2 separate regions of the Homo sapiens genome follow, and region 2 is linked to region 1. Evidence: fine-mapped expression QTL. A gene starts in region 1. The other region holds a variant in brackets. All regions are shown on one strand. Distances are between the middles of the regions.

Evidence for each region. PIP is the estimated chance that this variant, and not a neighbour inherited with it, causes the effect. A credible set is the group of variants that fine-mapping cannot tell apart.
Region 2: its variant is the best candidate, but not a certain one, in a credible set for the expression of CNN2 in whole blood (INTERVAL, PIP 0.87).

Annotation. Positions count from the first base shown.
Region 1 is chr19:1,022,774-1,031,587 of GRCh38, reverse strand. CNN2 (calponin 2) reads right to left here and starts at 4,980. Exons shown (of 7, transcript NM_004368.4): 1 at 4,864-4,980; 2 at 396-517. The coding sequence starts at 4,926. RefSeq lists silencers at 3,028-3,203, 4,693-5,332 and an enhancer at 5,323-6,054.
Region 2 is chr19:1,044,013-1,054,965 of GRCh38, reverse strand. It overlaps ABCA7 (ATP binding cassette subfamily A member 7), which reads right to left. Exons shown (of 47, transcript NM_019112.4): 11 at 10,222-10,389; 12 at 9,735-9,964; 13 at 8,560-8,736; 14 at 7,942-8,164; 15 at 7,588-7,809; 16 at 7,312-7,513; 17 at 5,961-6,071; 18 at 5,529-5,700; 19 at 3,914-4,045; 20 at 3,672-3,811; 21 at 3,380-3,517; 22 at 2,840-3,024; 23 at 2,680-2,752; 24 at 1,435-1,637; 5 more. Among named protein-coding and RNA genes, the nearest start is that of ABCA7, 9.4 kb to the right of the region's middle. RefSeq lists silencers at 3,229-3,429, 3,686-3,850, 9,451-9,500, 9,591-9,740. The variant G/T (reference allele first, on the strand shown) is at 5,660.

The sequences.
Region 1 (8,814 bases):
TTTTTTTTTTTTTTTTTTTTTTTGAGATGGAGTCTCGCTGTGTCACCCCGGCTGGAGTGCAATGGTGTGATCTCGGCTCACTGCAACCTCCGCCTCCCGGGTTCAAGCAATTCTCCTTCCTCAGCCTCCTGAGTAGCTGGGATTACAGGTGCCTGGCTAATTTTTTTGTATTATTAGTACAGACGGGGTTTCACCATGTTGGCCAGGCTGGTCTCGAACTCCTGACCTCGAGATCCACCGCCCCCCGCCACCACCCTCGGCCTCCAAAAGTGCTGGGATTACAGGCATGAGCCAGGCCATGCCCGGCCCCCCAAAAATTTCTTAATTAAGAAAAAAAGTGAGAAAAACCAAGATTTGTTAAGTGTGAGACAGCCTGTGTCCCTGCGTGTACTCACGTGCATAAGATAGTTCCATCCTTCAGGCCCTTCTGGAAGTCGGGGCCGATGGAGAGGCCGGTGAGTCCCTCGATCCAGGTGCGGAGCTCTGCCTCCTTCTGGGGGTCATATTTGGACAGGAGCTGGTGGAGCAAAGGGCACGAGACTGAGCTGGGCTGGGGGCACCCCCAGCAGGAACCCCACAGAAGCTCTGCAGAGGGTGGGGCCGGGGACTCCAGGGCAACAGCAGATAGAGCGGCCTGGAGGTCCCCCCTCACCACACCCACGCAGATGCTCCCTTTTCCCATCATTGGGGGCGCCCCAGCCACTGCAGGCGGGCACAGATAAACCGCCCTCCAAGCAGGCCGACAACCGGCTTAGAACTCACTGATAAACATCAGCTCTAATCCACTCCCGGTGCAGGACAAACCTGGCCGGATCTGCCTCCCCGCCCTGCCTTCTCACCTCCCCGCTATATCACACCTGACGTTTACCACTTCAACCACCTGAAACCGCACCATTTCACAGCATTTCGTACGTCTGCAATGTTGTGCAACCATCAGCTCTTTTTTCTTTTTTATTTTTTTTGAGACAGAGTCTCACTCTGTCGCCCAGGCTGGAGTGCAGTGGTGCGATCTCGGCTCACTGCAAGCTCCGCCTCCCCGGTTCAGGCCATTCTCCTGCCTCAGCCTCCCGAGTAGCTGGGACTGCAGGCGCCCGCCACCAGGCCCAGCTCATTTTTTGTATTTTTAATAGAGACGGGGTTTCACCGTGTTAGCCAAGATGGTCTCCATCTCCTGACCTCGTGATCTGCCCGTCTCAGCCCTCCAAAGTGCTGGGATTACAGGTGTGAGCCACCGCGCCCGGCCCCCATCCTGCTTCTTAGCAACTCCCGAAGGAGCTGCCCCCGAGGCTGACCGCCTCTAGTCACGCACCTGGCTCCTTGCCACCGATTCCCTGCCACCTTTCTGCACCCGGCCATTCCAGCTTTCTTGGCCTTCGGTGCTCTGAGACACCGCCGTGGGGAATGGGCTGTGTGCTCCTGGGCAGTGGGTGTGCACCAGTGGGGACCTCGAGTGTCCCTATCCAGCCACTAGTGACCGCGGAGACAGCACTGAGGCAGACGGCAAAGTGTATAGGGGGCCATAAGCATGGGGGCAGGTCGTGTAGCGGGAGCGGGAGATAAACGCTGGAGGGAGAATAAAGTAGGGTTTGGGCTGGGTGCGGTGGCTCACACCTACAATCCCAGCACTTTGGGAGGCCAAGGCGGGCGGATCATCTGAGGTCAGGAGTTCGAGACTGGCCTAGCCCACATGGTGAAATCCCGTCTGTACTAAAATACAAAAATGAGCTGGGCGTGGTGGTGGGCACCTGTAGTCCCAGCTACTTGGGAGGCTGAGGCAGGAGAATCGCTTGAACCCAGGAGGCAGAGGAGGCAGTGAGCCAAGATCGGGCCACTTCACTCCAGCCTGGAACAGAGTGAGCCTCTGTCTTAAAAAAAAAAAGAAAGAAAAGAGAGAAGGAAAAAAAAAATCAAATCCCTCTCCCTGCTCTGCACCCATCTCCCCAGGTTCCCGCGGACAGCTCCCCACTCAGCCTCCGCTTCCTCATCTCTTCCTGGGATTATTTGGGTTAGGGTCCCCTGACCTGGACCTGCCTGGGATGATTTGGGTTAGGGTCCCCTGAGCTGGACCTGCCTGGGATGATTTGGGTTAGGGTCCCCTGAGCTGGACCTGCCTAGGATGATTTGGGTTAGGGTCCCCTGAGCTGGACCTGCCTGGGATGATTTGGGTTAGGGTCCCCTGAGCTGGACCTGCCTGGGATGATTTGGGTTAGGGTCCCCTGAGCTAGACCTGCCTGGGATGATTTGGGTAGGGTCCCCTGACCTGGACCTGCCTGGGATGATTTGGGTTAGGGTCCCCTGAGCTGGACCTGCCTGGGATGATTTGGGTTAGGGTCCCCTGAGCTGGACCTGCCTGGGATGATTTGGGTTAGGGTCCCCTGAGCTAGATCTGCCTGGAATGATTTGGGTAGGGTCCCCTGAGCTGGACCTGCCTGGGATGATTTGGGTTAGGGTCCCCTGAGCTGGACCTGCCTGGGATGATTTGGGTTAGGGTCCCCTGAGCTGGACCTGCCTGGGATGATTTGGGTTAGGGTCCCCTGAGCTGGACCTGCCTGGGATTATTTGGGATAGGGTCCCCTGACCTGGACCTGCCTGGGATTATTTGGGTTAGGGTCCCCTGACCTGGCACCTGCCTGGAAACAGCTCGTAGCCCAGAGGAGGCAAAGGCGGGGAGGCCCCCCAGTACCAGCTCACAGCCCACCCAGCTTGGCTTTCCACGCCCGGGGGCAGCCCCGCCCCGCCGGCAACTTTGATCCCGAGGAATGAGAACGGTGGCTGCTGGGTACACAGCCCTGCCTTGCCCAGCTGCGCCGCGTCTCTGCCGGCTCAGGGGCCCAGGTCCCCTGGCCCCACCCCCAGCCGCTGCCGTCCTCCCCCACCCCCGCCCCCCCGCTGCCCGGCCGCCGGCCTTCCAGCACATTCCTGTTCACCACAAACTGCCAGGAATGCGCGCTGCCTCCCCGGCTAAATCTGAACCAGCTGTTCCCAGCGGGTCCGGACCCCCAAGCCGGGATGCAAGGCCGCAGACACTGTGGATCCGAGCTGCCTCCGTGCCGTCCAGCCGGGAGTCAACTGAGCCACGGGGAAGCGGGGCGGGGGGCGGGTCTCTGGCTGTTTCAAGCAGCCGGTAAAGCGGGTGTGAGCGGGAAGCCAGGGGGAAGCTGGTTTCTAATTGGGAGGCGACCCTTCCGTGACCCTGGCAAGCTGGCCGACGCCTCGCCCACCCTCCAAACGGACAGACTGAGGGTTGCGCGGGGAGCCTGCTAAGCGGCTCTTCCAGCCTCTGTCCTCACCCCCGCCAGGGCAGGTATCAACCTGCCCCCACCCCACCCCACCCCGTCTCCGGAAGCCGCCCCACCCTCCTGTGCCCGCTCCCACTTCCGCAGGCCCAGCAGGTACTGGGTTCCGGTCTTGGCCCTGTCACTTGTGGGCTGTGTGGCCCTGGGCAGCTGGAACGACGTCTCTGGGTCCCTGTGGACACCGGTGCCCTTAGCCGGCTGTATGCAGGGTGCGGCAGGGTGCCCACCCCACTGCACGGGGGGCTCTATGAATGCAGGGTGCAGATGGCCCCTTGAAGGAGGAGTCGTGAGCCCCGGGCTGGGGACCCTGGCTCAGGCCTTGACCACCCCAAGCCTCAGCCTCCCTTTTTGGCCAAGAGCTGGTCTGAAGGCTTGCAGGGGCTCACAGCGGGGAAGCAGGAATTCTCCCTCCAGTCTGCCGGCCCTGGAGTGCCGCCGGGCAGGTGGCTGTTGGGGCTGGCAGGGCCGGTGCCCTCAGAGCGTGCAGAGGCAGTTTCCCCTGCAGAAGTCAGCTGTAAGGACACCTTCCCAGGTGCCCAGTGGGCGTCGGGGGAGGGGGTGGGCGGGGACGACACCCCCCTCCAGCTGGAAGGTCCTGGAGGGTCAGGTCCCGGTCCTGTCCGTGGGTCTCGCATCACAACCCCCGCCCCCCACTTTCCCTGGGAATCCTGTCCAGGACCCTGCTGTGTGACCCTGCAGAAGTGTCTGGTCCTCTCTGAGCTAGAACCACAAGTGCTCTCTTAAAAAGTGTCTCCCCTAGCCCTGGCTTGTTTTTAATTATAGAGATGGGGTTTCGCCATGTTGCCCAGACTGGTCTCGAACTCGCTGGGCTCAAGCCATCCACCCAGCTCCGCCCCCCAAAGTGCTGGGATTACGGGCGTGAGCCCCCGCGCCCTGCCGGGCCCCAGCTCTTCTTTCGAGGCTGCAAAACCCCACATATCTCAGGGCCACCTTCAGAGAACCTCTTTGTTATCCGTTTAAATTAGTCAGATGGGAGACAAAGACCGTGCAAAGCGGCTACCGCCCCTCCCCCCAAGACACCCCCAAGGTGTCCCAGAGGCCAGGAAATTCCTGTTTGTGGGGGGGTAACACTTCTCAAAAACCACTCGGCCATGCCCCTTCCCCTCCCAAAGCTAAGAGGCCCCAAAAGCAGAAGTGTGGCCAGGAGATGACGGGGTTGCTGGGGTCCCCCCCAGACCCCCAGAGCGTTGTCGGACCTTGAACGGACCTTCTCGAAGGTTGAGTGGGCGCCAGGGGCTTCACACGTGGGGGTCCTGGGGCCATGGCGAGGGGACGAAGTCAGACCCAACTACCCCTAGATGTTGGGGGGGGGAATGGGTCACTCGTCCCCCAGATCTCAGACCTGGGTGCTCCCCAAGATTCGCGGGAGCCTCAGGGGGTGCCCGCAGACATCCCCCCACCAGGCGTCAGGGAGAACAAGGGCCCGTCCGCCCCGGGTCTCCAAGCTCCCTGCCCGGGAGGTGCCGGGGGCGCCTGGGGGCTCCTGCACCGGTCGGAGCGTGCGACGGCCGCGCTGTCGGGGGGACAAGGGGCGCCCCTCACTCACCCGGTTCTTGACCTCGGCCGACAGCCCGTACGAGGGGCCCTTGTTGAACTGCGTGGAGCTCATGGCTGGCGGGCGGGCGGCGGGACGGGGCCGCACAGGACGGGACGGGACGGGACCGCCGGGCTGGCGCGGGGTTGGGACGCGCCGGGCTCCGCGCGCCACGCCCCCGCCGCTGATTGGCCCGGAGCGCAAATGTCCTTATAAGGCCTGGAGGCGCCGAATTCCTGCGGCCGCGGACTTCCTGAGCCCCCTCGGTCGCCCCCGGACCCCCGCCTGGGCACAGCACCCCCGTCACCAGAGGCCTGGAGGGGCCCCTCGCCCCCTTTGATGCCACGGGAAACTGAGGCAGGGAGGGGCCGAGGCCGCCGGGACGTGGCACTCCTGCGGGCTCTCTGCTCAGAGCTCGTGGGCGGCTCTCACTCTTTCTCCATCTCAGACTTCTCTTCTGCCAGAAAGGGGAGGGGAGAAGGCTACCTTTGGGGCAGGAATGAGGGCCCCTCTCTGCCACTTAGAGGCGTCTAACCCCTTCCCAGGGAACTCTACTAGCTGGGAGGTGGACCAGGGAACCAGGGCAGGTTCCTCAGAGAAGGGGCCATTGGAGCTGGGGCTTTGTTGGATGAGTAGGAGTTTGTCAGTCCAAAAGAGAATAGGATTCTTACTGGGTGCGGTAGCTTGCACCTGGAGTTCTAGCTACTTGGGAGGCTGAGGCCGAAGGGGGAGGATCCGTTGAGCCCAAGAGGTCGAAGCTGCAGTGAGTTATCATCACAACATGACGCTCCAGCCTGGGCAGCAGAGCAAGAGCCTCTCTCTAAAAATAAATAAATAAATAAAAATAAAAATCCGAGTGGCTCACGCCTGCAATCCCAGCACTTTGGAAGGCCGAGGCGGGCGGATCACTTGAGGTCAGGAGTTCCAGACCAGCTTGGCTAACATGGCGAAACTCCGTCTCTACTAAAAATACAAAAATTAGCCGGGCATGGGGGCACATGCCTGTAATTCCAGCTACTGAGGAGGCTGAGGTGGGAGGATCACTTGAAGCCAGGAGGCGGAGGTTGTAGTAAGTCGAGATCGCGCCACTGCACTCCAGCCTGGGCGACAGAGCAAGACTCCGTCTTAAAAAAAAAAACAAAAAAAAAAAACACAAAAAAACCCTAATAATAATAAATTATTAAAAAGTCTCCGGGACAGTCTCCTGCCAGGCAGTGCTGGCTCTCAGGAGACCTTAGCTCTGGCCCAGCCCATGCCCAGGAAGACAGAGCTGGCACAGACCAACCCCCAACCCGGATTCCCTGTATGAGCCAGCACAGGCGGAACCCCCCCACCCCGCCCACCCTGTTTCCCTATATGAGCAAGTACAGGACAGAATGAGAGGCTTGGGGCTGGAGGAACTGGAGGGAGAGTTGGGGCTCTGTCGGAGGAATCAAGGAAAGCTGCATGTAAGAGGAGGCAAGGGAGATGGGGTTTTGAAGCATCAATAGGAGTTTGACACATTTTATTTTATTTTATTTTATTTTATTTTATTTTATTTTATTTTATTTTATTTTTAGTAGAGATGGGGTTTCACCATGTTGGCCAGGCTGGTCTCGAACCCCTGACCTCAGGTGATCCACCCGCCTCAGCCTCCCAAAGTACTGTGATTACAGGCTTGAACCACTGCACCTGGCCGACCCATGTCATTTTAGACCAGTGCTGACCATTTCTGTTATTCTGAGATGAAGGAAATTTTCAATGTGGCACTATCTACTACTGTAGCCACTGGCCATGGGGCTACTGAGCACTGGAAGTGTGGCTGGTGCCATCAGGGAAGCAAATACTTCATGTTCTTTTTATTTTATTTTATTATTATTTTTTGAGACGGAGTCTCGCTCTGTCACCCAGGCTGGAGTGCAGTGGCGCAATCTTGGCTCACTGCAAGCTCCACCTCCTGGGTTCACGCCATTCTCCTGCCTCAGCCTCCCCAGCAGCTGGGACTACAGGCACACCTCCACACCCAGCTAATTTTTGTATTTTTAGTAGAGACGGGGTTTCACTGTGTTATCCAGGATGGTCTCGATCTCCTGACCTCGTGATCTGCCCGCCTCAGCCTCCCAAAGTGCTGGGATTACAGGTGTGAGCCACCGCACCCAGCAAATACTTCCTATTCTTAAATTTCAATTAAAAATTAAAAACTGGCACTAGATTCCATTTTTTGAAGACACATATATATAAATACACATATATATGTAGCTGGGACTCCGAGTAGCTGGGACCGTAGACACGCACCACCACGCCTGGCTAATTTTTGCATTTTTAGTAGAGATGCGGGTTTCACCATGTTGGCCAGGCTGGTCTTGAACTCCTGACCTCAAGTGATCCGCCGGCCTCAGCCTTCCGAAGTGCTGGGATTATAGGTGTCAGCTGCCGTGGCCGGGCTATTTCAATTAATTTCAGTTAAAAATTAAAAACTGACATGATTTCCGTTTTTGACTATATATATATGTACACACACATTAAAGTTTTCAAATACATAAATACACACATATGTACACATTATACATATAAATGTAAATATATAGATATTTGAAACAGGGTCTTGCTCTGTCACCCAGGCTGGAGTGCAGTGGTGCAAATATAGTTCACTGCAGCCTCGACCTCCTGGACTCAAGTAATCTCCTGCCTCAGCCTCCTGAGTATCTGGGACTACAGGCATGTGCCATATGCCTAGCTAATTTTTAAATTTTTTGTAGAGATGGGGTCTCCCTATGTTGCCCAGTCTGGATTCAAGTGATCCTCCCGCCTCAGCCTCCCAAAGTGCTGGGATTGCAGGCGTGAGCCACCGTGCTCAGCCTCGTGTATATTTTAAATACCTTAGCGTTTCTGAATTTTCCTTTTCAGTATAAACGCTGTAAATCTAAATACTGTGGAGATAAGTATTTCTGAGGAAGCACTGGTATCCATATTGGAACACCCCATGGATGGGAAACACACCAGATTCTGAAGACTTGGTACATCTCAGTTACTTTTTTTTTTTTTTTTTTTTTGAGAAGTAGTCTCGCTCTGTCACCCAGGCTGGGGTGCAGTGGCGTGATCTCGGCTCACTGCAAGCTCCGCCTCCCGGGTTCAGGCCATTCTTCTGCCTCAGCCTCCCGAGCAGCTGGGACTACAGGCGCCCGCCACCACACCCAGCTAATATTTTTGTATTTTTAGTAGAGACAGGGTTTCACCGTGTTTGCCAGGGTGGTCTCGATCTCCTGACCTCGTGATCCGCCCGCCTCGGCCTCCCAAGTGCTGGGATTACAGGTGTCAGCCACCGCGCCCGGCCACTTTTTTTTCGTTTATGAGGTGGGGTCTTGCTCTGTTGCCCAGGCTGGAGTGCAATGGTGCCATCACAGCTCACTGCAGCCTCCAACTCCTTGGCTTAAGCAATCCTCTTGCCTCAGCCTCCCAAGTAGCTGGGACCACAGGCACACACCACCGTGCCCAGCTAATTTTTGGTATTTTTCGTAGAGACAGGATCTCATTATATTGCCCAGGCTGGTCTTGAACACCTGGGCTGAAATGATCCTCCCGCCTCAGCCTCCAAAAGTGCTGAGATTACAGGCATGAGCCACCGCGCCTGACCTTGTTTGGATAACTTGAGATGTGTAAAATATATTATTAAAATTAATTTCACTTGCTCTTTTTTAGTTGTTTTACTGTGGCTACCAGAACACTTAAAGTTATGTTTGTTATTTGCTTATCTTTCTCTTGGAAAGCTGTGTTCTTGACCTGTGGGCCAAATCCAGCTGCAGCCTATTTTTGTATGGCTTGTGAGCTAAGAATGGCTCTTACATTTTTAAGTGGTTGAAAAAAAAACCCAAAATATGAAAACCATTCTATCAAACGTGGAAATTACATAACATTCAAATTCCAGTGTCTGCAGACAAAGCTTTATTGGCACACAGCTGTGCCCATCCATTTATGTATCATTTA
Region 2 (10,953 bases), 22 kb before region 1:
GGTGCCCCCTGAGGCTCCCTGGCCAGGGACCAGATGGGAAAACTGAGGCCAGAGAGGGGAAAGGTCCAGGCCAACAAGACGCCTCACCTGTGGGAGCTATGCTGCACTGGGGGCTCCTCCAGTCCTGCCTCCTGCAGCAGCGCCTCGAGCAGCCGGGCACGTCCAGGGTCCCCTGGGGCGTCCTCACTGTGTGTGAGGGGAGATGTAGGGTCAGGGCTGTACCCCCAGGTCCCTAGTCTTCCTGCCACCAGCCCCTTCCTTCTGCACCCACCTGAAGAAGGACACCTGAGCACCGTACATGGTGGGACTGAGCCGCAGAGCCGGGTAGTGCCCGAAAGGAGGCACGATGAGGCTGAACACGAGGGCCAGGCCCACAAAGAGGGCAGGCAGCACGATCTGGGGGACCAGCCCATCAGCTGCTGCTTCCATCCACCCTCCAGGCTTGCTTGCACCTGTCCCTGCTCCTGCTCTACAACCACCCATGGCTCCCCAGTGCCCTCAATAAATGTGCTTTGGGTTGGGAATACACACGGGGGTAAGGGTTTGGATTAGGCCACTGAGTGGACGGCCAGGGTAGGGAACTCAGGGACTCCCATGCGACTCCCTGGTGCTAGCCCTCCTCACCTGGGCGAACAGGCCGCGGCGGCTGCGGCGGGCAAGCAGAAAGCGCTTGAGAAGCAGGGCCTGGAGCTGCTGGCGGGTCAGTGCCCAGCCCTGTACCCGGCCCACGGCGTCTGGCCCAGAGCCCTGGTCAGTCTCTGGGGCTGACCCAGCTGTGAGGGATGAGAGGGTCAGTGCTCACGCTGCTGTGGGGGGGTGGCTGGGAGGACCCCAGGGCCACTGGGAAGGACTTACCTGGTTCCCCGTTCTCCAGCGCTGTCTCCTGTGGCGGCATCTTGAGCCGTAGGGTTACGTCTAGGCCAGCAATGCCTGTGCATAGGTGCTGCCCGCAGCTGCCATCTGCAGGGCCATCAGGGGTCAGGGTCAAAGTTGAGGGTCACGGATTGGGGGATCAGGAATCAGGTATAGGGTAAAGGCTATGCCTTGGGCCACACTAAGCCAGGGATGGGGACCTGGCCTCTGGTCCCACTCTGGACTGGGGTCAGGGGTCAGGGAGCTGTGGCCGCACCCTCCATATCTGTGTCCGCAGCACACTCCTCCACCACCTTCAGGAAGATCTGGGGAGACAAGCAGGGGCTCAGAGACTGGACACCGACAGGGAGAACTGGGGGCTTGTGAGCCCCCCACCCCTCCTACACCATGGGTCCCCCAGGCCTTCCCAAGGGACATCTGAGCCACCAGAGCTCCTCATGTGCCATGCCTCCTCCCTGAATGTCCTTGCTGCTCATAAACACGCTATTCATCCTTCAAAACACCACCTCCTCCAGGAAGCCCTCCTCCTGGCCCCACCTCACCACCACCCAGGCCTCACACCTCCTCGAGGCTGGTGTCGGAGATCCCGTAGCCAGTGAGCCTCAGCTCCGCCAGCCGCGTGTCTAGCTCTCGGAAGAGTGTGGCGAAGCTGCCGTCATGGGCACCCGTGTAGGGCAGCACCAGCACCAGCTCGTGTGGCAGCTCCTCCACCAGCCGTGCCCCGGGCACCCAGTGCTGTACCAGGGCCAGCAGCTGAGGAGTGCCTGTGTGGACAAAGGGGTGCTTCAGGGAGCCCCGGCTCACGCCCCACCCCAGTCTCCCTGGGGAAGAGGCATTGGTGACCTGTGAGGGGACTGTCCCGGCAGACAGAGATCAGGGTTAAGAACGTAGGCCAGGTGCGGCCGGGCGCAGTGGCTCACGCCTGTAATCCCAGCACTTTGAGGGTTGAAGCAGGCAGATCACCTGAGGTCAGGAGTTTGAGACCAGCCTGACCAACATGGTGAAACCCCATTTCTACCAAAAATGCAAAAATTAGCCAGGCATGGTGGAACCCACCTGTAATCCCAGTTACTCGAGAGGCTGAGGGAGGAGAAATGCTTGAACCCAGGAGGCAGAGGTTGCAGTGAGCTGAGATCACACCACTGCACTACAGCCTGGGCGACAGAGCAAGACTCAGAAACAAACAAAAAGAGATCTTGAGGGCAGTGCTGGACCTAGTGTTGGAGGTCAGGGGTAGGTTTGTCTCTGGGCTCAGCCCTGGTTGGGTTAAAGGTGGGGTCAGTGTTCAAGTTAGTCTCATGGTTCCGGCTCAGCCCAGGGATGGGGGCATCATCTCAGGTTCTCAAGTGCTCTCCTCCTCCTCTCCTTCTCCTCCCCCTCCTCTCCCTCCTCCTCCTCTCCCTCCTACTCCTCCCCCTTCTCCTCCCCCTCCTCTTCCTCCTACTTCTCCCCCTTCTCCTCCCCCTTTCCCTCCCCCTCCTCCTCCCCCTCCTATTCCTCCCCTTCTGCTCCCCTCCTACTCCTCCCCTTCTTCTCCCCCTCCTCCTCTCCCTTCCCCTCCTCCTCCCCCCTTCTCCTCCCCCTCCTCCTCTCCCTCCCCCTCCTCCTCTCCCTCCTACTCCTCCCCTTCGCCTCCCCTTCCACCTCTTACTCCTCCCCCTCCTCCTCCCCCTCCTCCTCCGCCTCAACCTCCTCTGCCGCTTCCTCCCCCTCCTCCTCCTCTTCCCCCTCCCCCTCCTCCTCCTCAAGTTAAGGCACAGCCACCCCACTGCCCACCCGCCTTGGGTCTCCCACCCCGGCCCTCACCGACTCTGCTGCCCTGGCTGCCATTCTTCTTTTCCTGCCTGGTGTCCACACTGCCCTCCATGTCAGTGTCAGCCTGCGGGCAGAGAGGCACCAAGTGGCTTGGCCTTCAGGGCTGAACAGAGTCCCGGGGGTCAGGGGTCAGGAGAAGGCCGGTCCCCACCTTCTCATTGGTGGTCAGGGGCAGGCGGGCCTTCACCAGCGTCAGGTAGTAGCCGGAGCCCAGGTGACGGCGCAGGAAGAGTGGGGAGCCACAGCAGCACAAGCGGCCACCTGCCACCACGGCCACACGGTCTCCCAGCAGCTCTGCCTCATCCAGGTGGTGGGTGGAGAGGATCAGCGTGCGACCTAGGCACGGGGGACCAACCCACAACTACCATCAGGCCGCCGCGTCTTTGCCCGAGCTGGGGCCTCTGCCAGGAGTTGTCTGCCCCATGAAGCAAACTCCTATTCATCCCTCAAAACCTCATCCCCAGAACCTCCTTGTTGGAAACCTTTTCTGGCCCTTCAGGCAGAATCCAGGGGAACCTCTGTCTATCCCCAACTCTTACTGTCTCGGTATTTGAGCAGTAGCCCCTAAATGCCATAGCAACAAGTGGGGTCCACATGTAGCAAACTCCTACTCATTCCTCAAAACCCCATCCCCAGCACTTCCTTGTCAGAAGCCTTTTCTGGCCCCTCGAGCAGAATCCCCAGCTCTTACCTTCTCGGTATTTGAGCAGCAGCTCCCAAATACCGCGGCGGGAAGCAGGATCCACGCCAGCCGTAGGCTCGTCCAGGATAACAACTTGGGAGCCGCCCACAAAGGCAATGGCCACGGACAGCTTCCGTTGCATCCCACCTGGTAGAGATGGGGAAGGGACCTCAGTGTGTCACACCCAGCCTTGGGCAAGGTTGCCTACCCACGTGGACCTCAGTACCCGGCTTCCCCCTGCCTTCAGGATGAATCCCCAGGCCCCTCCCTGTGAGGTGACCTCCCTTGGGGATGGGCTCACCAGAGAGGTGGCGAGTCTGCACACTCTGCTTGGAGACCAGCCCCACATCCTGCAGCAGACGGTCCTGCTCGGGGCCCACTACAGCGGCACTCAGACCCTTCAGCCGCCCATAGAACCAGACGTGCTCGTCCACGGTCAGCCTGCGGCCAGTGCACAGAGCAGAGTGACCCACATGGCAGGCAGAGTCCCAGAGGGCGTCCAGTCCCTTCCCACCGCTGCACTCTGGGCCTGCCGAGACGCACATGTCAAACAGCACGTTGTACTGAGGACAGACGCCCAGGTGGGGCCGGATGGCGGCCATGCTGGAGCGGACGTCGTGGCCCAGGATGAAGGCAGAGCCACCACTGGGTGGGAAGAGGCCACTCAAGATGGACCTGTGGATAGAGGGGTCTCAGAGTAGCCCCCTTCACAGAGTGCACTGGCAGTTACAGAGCTTCTATTTTTAATTTCTGTTTTTAAAAAATTTTTAATTATTTATTATTATTATTATTATTATTATTATTATTATTATTTTTGAGACGGAGTTTCACTCTGTTGCCCAGGCTGGAGTGCAGCGGCACGATCTCGGCTCACTGCAAGCTCCACCTCCCGGGTTCACGCCATTCTCCTGCCTCAGCCTCCCGAGTAGCTGGGACTACAGGCGCCCGCCACCATGTCCGGCTAATTTTTTTGCATTTTTAGTAGAGACGGGGTTTCACTGTTTCACCATGTTAGCCAGGATGATCTCAATCTCCTGACCTCGTGATCCACCCGCCTCGGCCCCCCAAAGTGCTGGGATTGCAGGCCTGAGCCACCACGCCTGGCCACAGAGCACCTATTAAATGCTACATCCAAAACCCTGTGATAGCCTTATTTTTATTTATTTGTTTATTTTTATTTTTTTGTGACAGAGTCTCACTCTGTTGCCCAGGCTGGAGTGCAACGGCACAGTCTCGGCTCACTGCAACCTCCGCCTCCAGGGTTCAAGCAGTTCTCCTGCCTCAGCCTCCTGAGTAGCTGGGATTACAGGTGCACGCCACCATCACACCCGGCTAATTTTTGTATTTTTAGTAGAGATGGTTTTGCCATATTGGCCAGGCTGTGTCTCAAACTCTGACCTCAGGCAATCCTCCCACCTCGGCTTGCCCAAGTGCTGGGATTACAGGCGTGAGCCACCACTCCCGCCCTATTTATTTTGAGACAGGGTCTTACTCCGTTGCCCAAGCTGGAGTGCAGTGGCGCCATTACTGCTCACAGGGAGGGACTGGTCGGGGGCCTCACAGGGAGCTCACAGGGAGGAAGTGGTGGGGGGCTCACAGGGAGGGAGTGGTTTGGGCGGCTCACAGGGAGGGAGTGGTGGGGGACTCACAGGGAGGGAGTGGTGGGGGAACTCACAGGGAGGGAGTGGTGGGGGGGCTCACAGGGAGGGAGTGGTGGGGGGGCTCACGGGGAGGGAGCGGTCGGGGGGCTCACAGGGAGGGAGTGGTGGGGGGGCTCACGGGGAGGGAGTGGTGGGGGGTTCACGGGGAGGGAGTGGTGGGGGGGCTCACGGGGAGGGAGTGGTGGGGGGTTCACGGGGAGGGAGTGGTGGGGGGCCTCACGGGGAGGGAGTGGTGGGGGGGCTCACGGGGAGGGAGTGGTGGGGGGTTCACGGGGAGGGAGTGGTGGGGGGGCTCACGGGGAGGGAGTGGTGGGGGGTTCACGGGGAGGGAGTGGTGGGGGGCTCACGGGGAGGGAGTGGTGGGGGGGCTCACGGGGAGGGAGTGGTGGGGGGTTCACGGGGAGGGAGTGGTGGGGGGCTCACGGGGAGGGAGTGGTGGGGGGGCTCACGGGGTGGGAGTGGGGGGGCTCACGGGGAGGGAGTGGTTGGGGGCTCACAGGGTGGTGGTCTTGCCGGCCCCGTTGTGGCCCAGGAAGGCGGTGATGTGGCCCTGGTAGAAGTCCAGGCTGAGCCCCCGCAGGGCTGGCTGCGGGCTTCCAGGAAAGCGCTTCTCCAGGCTGCGAACGGA[G/T]ACGCCAGGACTCAGGCCGGGCGGTGCCTCTTCTACCAGCACTGCAGAGATGGGGTGGACTCAGCCATGGAGGTCATGGGGGTCCTGGGGCCTGCAAGTCCCTCAGAGCTGGGCTGTGGAATCCGGGACCTGCTGGGCCGGGGCCTATAAAAGCTGCGGGAGCTTGGGGACCGCAGTGTCTTCAGGGCAGGTGTGAGGGTTGGGGTGTCCAGGTCATTGTCATTGGCATCTGTGGAATCTCGTTTTGGGGGGGAACTGGGCATATGTGGACAACCAGCTATTAAGCCTCGTAGTGCCTCACCCTTTGGGTCCAGCGGGGTGGGGCAAGGGGCTGGACTCTTGGGGGGCCGAGGTCCGCACCAGTAGCTCCTCCGAAAAGGAAAATTCCATGGTTCAGGGATCCCGTACTGGCCTGCGGGGAGGGGCGCGGGTTATTGCTTAGCCCACCCCCCAGGAGTGTACCAGGCTTTTTTTGGGGTTTTGTTTTTTTTTTTTTTTGAGACGGAGTCTTGCTCTGTTGCCCAGGCTGGAGTGCAGTGGCACGATTTTGACTCGCTGCAAGCTCCGCCTCCCCAGTTCACGTCATTCTCCTGCCTCAGCCTCCTGAGTAGCTGGGACTACAGGCGCCCGCCACCATGCCTGGATAATTTTTTGTATTTTTGGGAGAGACGGGGTTTCACCGTGTTAGCCAGGATGGTCTCCATCTCCTGACCTCGTGATCTGCCCACCTCGGCCTCCCAAAGTGCTGGGAAAGCAGGCGTGAGCCACCGTGCCCGGCCTTGTTTTTTTTTTTTTTGTTTTTTTTTTTTTGAGACTGAGTTTCACTCTTGTTGCCCAGGCTGGAGTGCAGTGGCGCGATCTCGACTCACCGCAACCTCCGCCTCCGGGATTCAAGCATTTCTCCTGCCTCTGCCTTCCAAGTAGCTAGGAAACAGGCACCCGCCACCACACCCAGCTAATTTTGTATTTTTAGTAGAGACGGGGTTTCTCCATGTTGGTCAGGCTGGTCTCGAAATCCCGACCTCAGATGACCCGCCCGCCTCGGCCTCCCAAAGTGCTGGGATTACAGGCGTGAGCCACCGCACCCAGCCAGCTTTTTTTTTTTTTTTTTTTTTAAAGAGATGGAGGTCTCACTCTGTTGCCCAGGCTGGTGGGATCACGGCTCACAGCAGCCTCAACCTCCTGGGCTCGAGTGATCCTCCCACCCCATCCTCCCGAGTAGCTGGGACTACAGGAGCGTGCCACCACGCCCAGCGTGCCACCACGCCCAGCTAACTTTTTGTATTGATGAGGTCTCACTATATTGCCCAGCCTGGTCTCAAACTCCTGGGCTCAAGCGATTCTCCTGCCTTGGCCTCCCAAAGTGCTGGGATTACAAGCGTGAGCCACAGCGCCCGGCGACTGTGCCAGCTTCTGGCCATACACCTGGAATCAGGGCGTCCAGGTATGAGGCGGCCCAGAAACCCCGCCCACCTGCCTCAGGCCCCGCCCCTCCAATGCAGCCACCTGCATGCGTGTGCCAAGAAGCCCCGCCTTCTCTCCAAGGGAATAAGCCACCCCCCACCCCCAAACGGCCTGGAGGCCACACCCCTAGCTCAGCCTCCCGCAAAGCAGGTGCGACCCGGCCCGGAGCCCCGCCCCCTACGGCCCACCTGGGCACACAGCTTCCAGGTACCAGGTGGCGAGGCCGTAGAGCGCCGCGTCCAGCAGCAGAAGGCCAGAGACCTGGGCCAGGCTGAAGACGTCTGCCGTAGGCCGGGTGCCCACGTTGTGCCACTGCGCGCCCTCGCCCTGCTCCTCCAGCAGAGCCAGGCTCTCGCAGCCGAAGCCGAAGGCCACGGGCGACAGCAGGCTCTGCGGAAAAGCGGGCGGTCAGTGAGCGGCCGAAGCGGGGGGCGTCCCCCATCCACGCCCGACCCGGCTCTCACCGCGGCCACGCGGCCACCCGCGGGCAGCCGGTCCCGCCAAGCCACACACAGCACGTAGGGCAGGTAGAGGGAGAAGTAGGCCAGGCCGCCGCAGGCCGCAGCCAGGTTGGCGCGGGAGAAGAAGGCGCTGAGCAGGAAGCTCTGGGTCACCGTGGCCACCGCGAAGGCTGCCAAGAACAGGAAGACCACGCCCGGGTGGCTGTAGGGGAGGATGTCTCCCAGCTGTGAGAGGCAACGGGAGCTTAGGGTGCAGCTCCTGGATTGGCCTGGGGGCGCGCACCCACGTGGGGCCGCCCCTGTCTGTCACCCTCCAGCGCACCCATTCTGCAGCCGGGCAGGCCGAGGCGCGCCCACCTTGAGCACCAGAACCAGCAGTGCGGCGCTGAGCAGGAAGGGCCCGAGGCAGCTGAGGAACCAGCCTAGCCAGAGCACCGCGCGGCTGAGCCCCATGGCGCGCATGGTGTCCCGCAGCCGCGTCTCCTTCTCCCGCACCACGGCCTTCACTGTCAGTGTCACGGAGTAGATCCAGGCCAGCGTCAGGAAGAGCGGCAGCGACCGGCTCAGCACACGCAGGAACCTGGGGTGGGGACGGCTGGGGTGGAGGCTGGAGACCCTCCGCAGACCCCCCCTCCGCCCACCATCTGGCACGACTGGTTCGTGTCCCGGGATCTCAAGGCGGGAAGATTTGCCTCCCTGTTCCTTGGAACCTGATCCAGCCAGCCTTTGGCTCTCAGGCATCAGTGCAGCCCAGGCTGTCCCTGCGCCGGGGGCCCCCAGACCCTCAGAGTCCCCCCCCCCACCAGACCCTCAGAGTCCCCTGCTCCTCCCGCTGCAGCAGGTCACGTGGAGTGGTGTAAAGGTGCAAAGTTCGCAGCCTGGACCGCAGGAAGGTTCCCAACAGAGCCTGGGCCCACCCCCACACCCGGGACCTTCCCGCCGCGGGGAAGAGCGGGGAGGGGTGCCAGAGCTCACACGTCGTCCACATAGCACGGATAGGGCATCTGCTGCAGGTAGAGGCCGGCCCGGGGGTTGGCGCCGCTGAGCACGCGGACGGCTGCACGCTCCACCAGGTCTTGCAGGTACACGAAGCCGCCCCACACGTAGCGCAGGTCGGTCAGGGGGTCCGCGGCTGGGCCAGGGTCCCAAAACCTGCGAGAGGGGCATGGTGGCCGGTTGTAGGGAAGGGCTAGAAACTCCCGGGGCCCCACCCTGAATAACCTTTTTCTTAGACAGGGTCTTGCTCTGTCGCCCAGGCTGGAGTGAAGAGCTGCAATCATAGCTCACTGCAGCCTTGACCTCCCGGGATCAAACGATCCCCCCAGCTCGGCCTCCCAAGTCGCCTGGCTAATTTTATTCATTTATTCATTTGTTTGAGACGGAGTCTCGCTCTATCGCCCAGGCTGGAGTGCAGTGGCGCCATCTCGGCTCACTGCAACCTCCGCCTCCTGGGTTCAAGCGATTCTCCTGCCTCAGCCTCCTGGGTAGCTGGGCCTACAGGCGCGTGCTACCACGCCCGGCTAATTTTTTGTACTTTTTTTTTTTAGTAGAGGCAGGGTTTCACCGAGTTAGTCAGGATGGTCTTGATCTCCTGACCTCGTGATCCGCCCGCCTCAGCCTCCCAAAGTGCTGGGATTACAGGCGTGAGCCACTGTGCCCGGCCTCACCTGGCTAATTTTTAAAGATATTTTCGTGAGGTTGGTGGGGGAGGGGGGCGGGGGGGAGGCGGTCTCACTATGTTGCCCAGGCTAGTCTCGAATACCTGTCCTCAAGAGATTCTCCCACTTTGGCCTCCCAAAGTTCTGAGATAACAGGCAAGATCTACTGCGCTCAGCACCCGGTGCAATTTTAGCTCCACCCTTATTCCAGGGACCTAATAATACACCTGGCTCCGCCCACCATTGCCCTCAACCTATACCTGCTCTCATCTTATCTCAGGCCCATGGCCACGCCCCTCATGCACCTAGGCCCCGCCCATCACGGGCCCCTATTGGTCTAAGGAGCCCCGGGCTCTGGCTACCATACCACTGTTGATACAGCCCAGATCCTGTCTATCATGGTCTCCAATAGGCTGAATGCTGCCTGGCCCCACCCACCACGCTCTTGGCCCCGCCCAGTCCCTCATCCCCCCGCCCCCTCCCTCGCCTGACCTGTCCCTGATCTTATTGGTCCTCGTGACCACGTCAATGTCCATGCGGATTTTGATGCGCACGTGGCCGGGGCCCAGGTCTGGGGTTGGGTGCTCTGTGGGGTCTGAAGAGTCCTCAGGTCCCAAGAAGACGACGCCGGCCCAGAATCGATGTTCCGCGAGCAGTTGCAGGGCCCGCGACACCAGGGCTGCCTCTGAGGGTGCCGCCTCCAGCTTGTCCAAGGACAGGCACTGTGGGATGCGGGGGTGAGTCCTAGGCGCTGGGGTCCGCCTGCCTCCTAGACCACTCCGCTCCTCCCCCTGGACCTCGGGGCTGGGCCATGTTTTCCCCTCGTAGGCCCACGGCCGGCTCCCTCCTGAGATCTCTACAAATCCCAGGCTCTTACTAGGGCCGGGCCCGCCTCCCCCTGGGAACACCAGGGTGGGAACACTAGGATGGGACCTGCCCTCCCCACTGAAACAGACCCCGCAGGTGGACAGGCCCTCACCTCCGTCACTCGGCCCAGCGTGCCCACCAGGTGCCCCACATCAGCGTGTGCGTCCTGCCAGCTGTAGCCACCGCTCCCAGGGTCCAGAAAGGATCGCAGGGCCTCCATGTGGTCCCGGCCTCCAGGTCTGGGCTGCCTTCTTCCTTCATCCTGCATCTGCAGGAGCCGCTGGGGGGCGCAGGTGAAAGTGAGAGTCTGGGTCGGGCACAGTGGCTCATGCCTGTAATCCCAGCACTTTGGGAGGCGAGGCGGGTGGATCACCTGAGGTCAGGAGTTCGAGACCAGCCTGGCCAACATGGTGAAAGCCCATCTCTACTAAAAATACAAAAAGTAGCCGGGAGTGGTGGCGCATGCCTGTAATCCCAGTTACTTGTGAGGCTGAAGCAGGAGAATTGCTTGAATCCAGGAGGCGGAGGTTGCAGTGAGCCAAGATCTCGCCACTGCAGTCCAGCCTGGGCAACAGAGTGAGACTCCATCTCTTAAAAAAAAAAAAAAAAAAAAAAAAAGCAGGACGTGGTAGTTCACGCCTGTAATCCCAGCACTTTGGGAGGCCGAGGCGGGTGGATCACGAGGTCAGGAGATCGAGACCATCCTGGCTAACATGGTTAAACCCCGTCTCTACTAAAAATAAAAAAAAAAAATCATCCGGGCGTGGTGGTGGGCGCCTGTAGTCCCAGCTACTCAGAGGGTGAGACAGGAGAATCGCTTGAACCCGGGAGGTGGAGGTTGCAG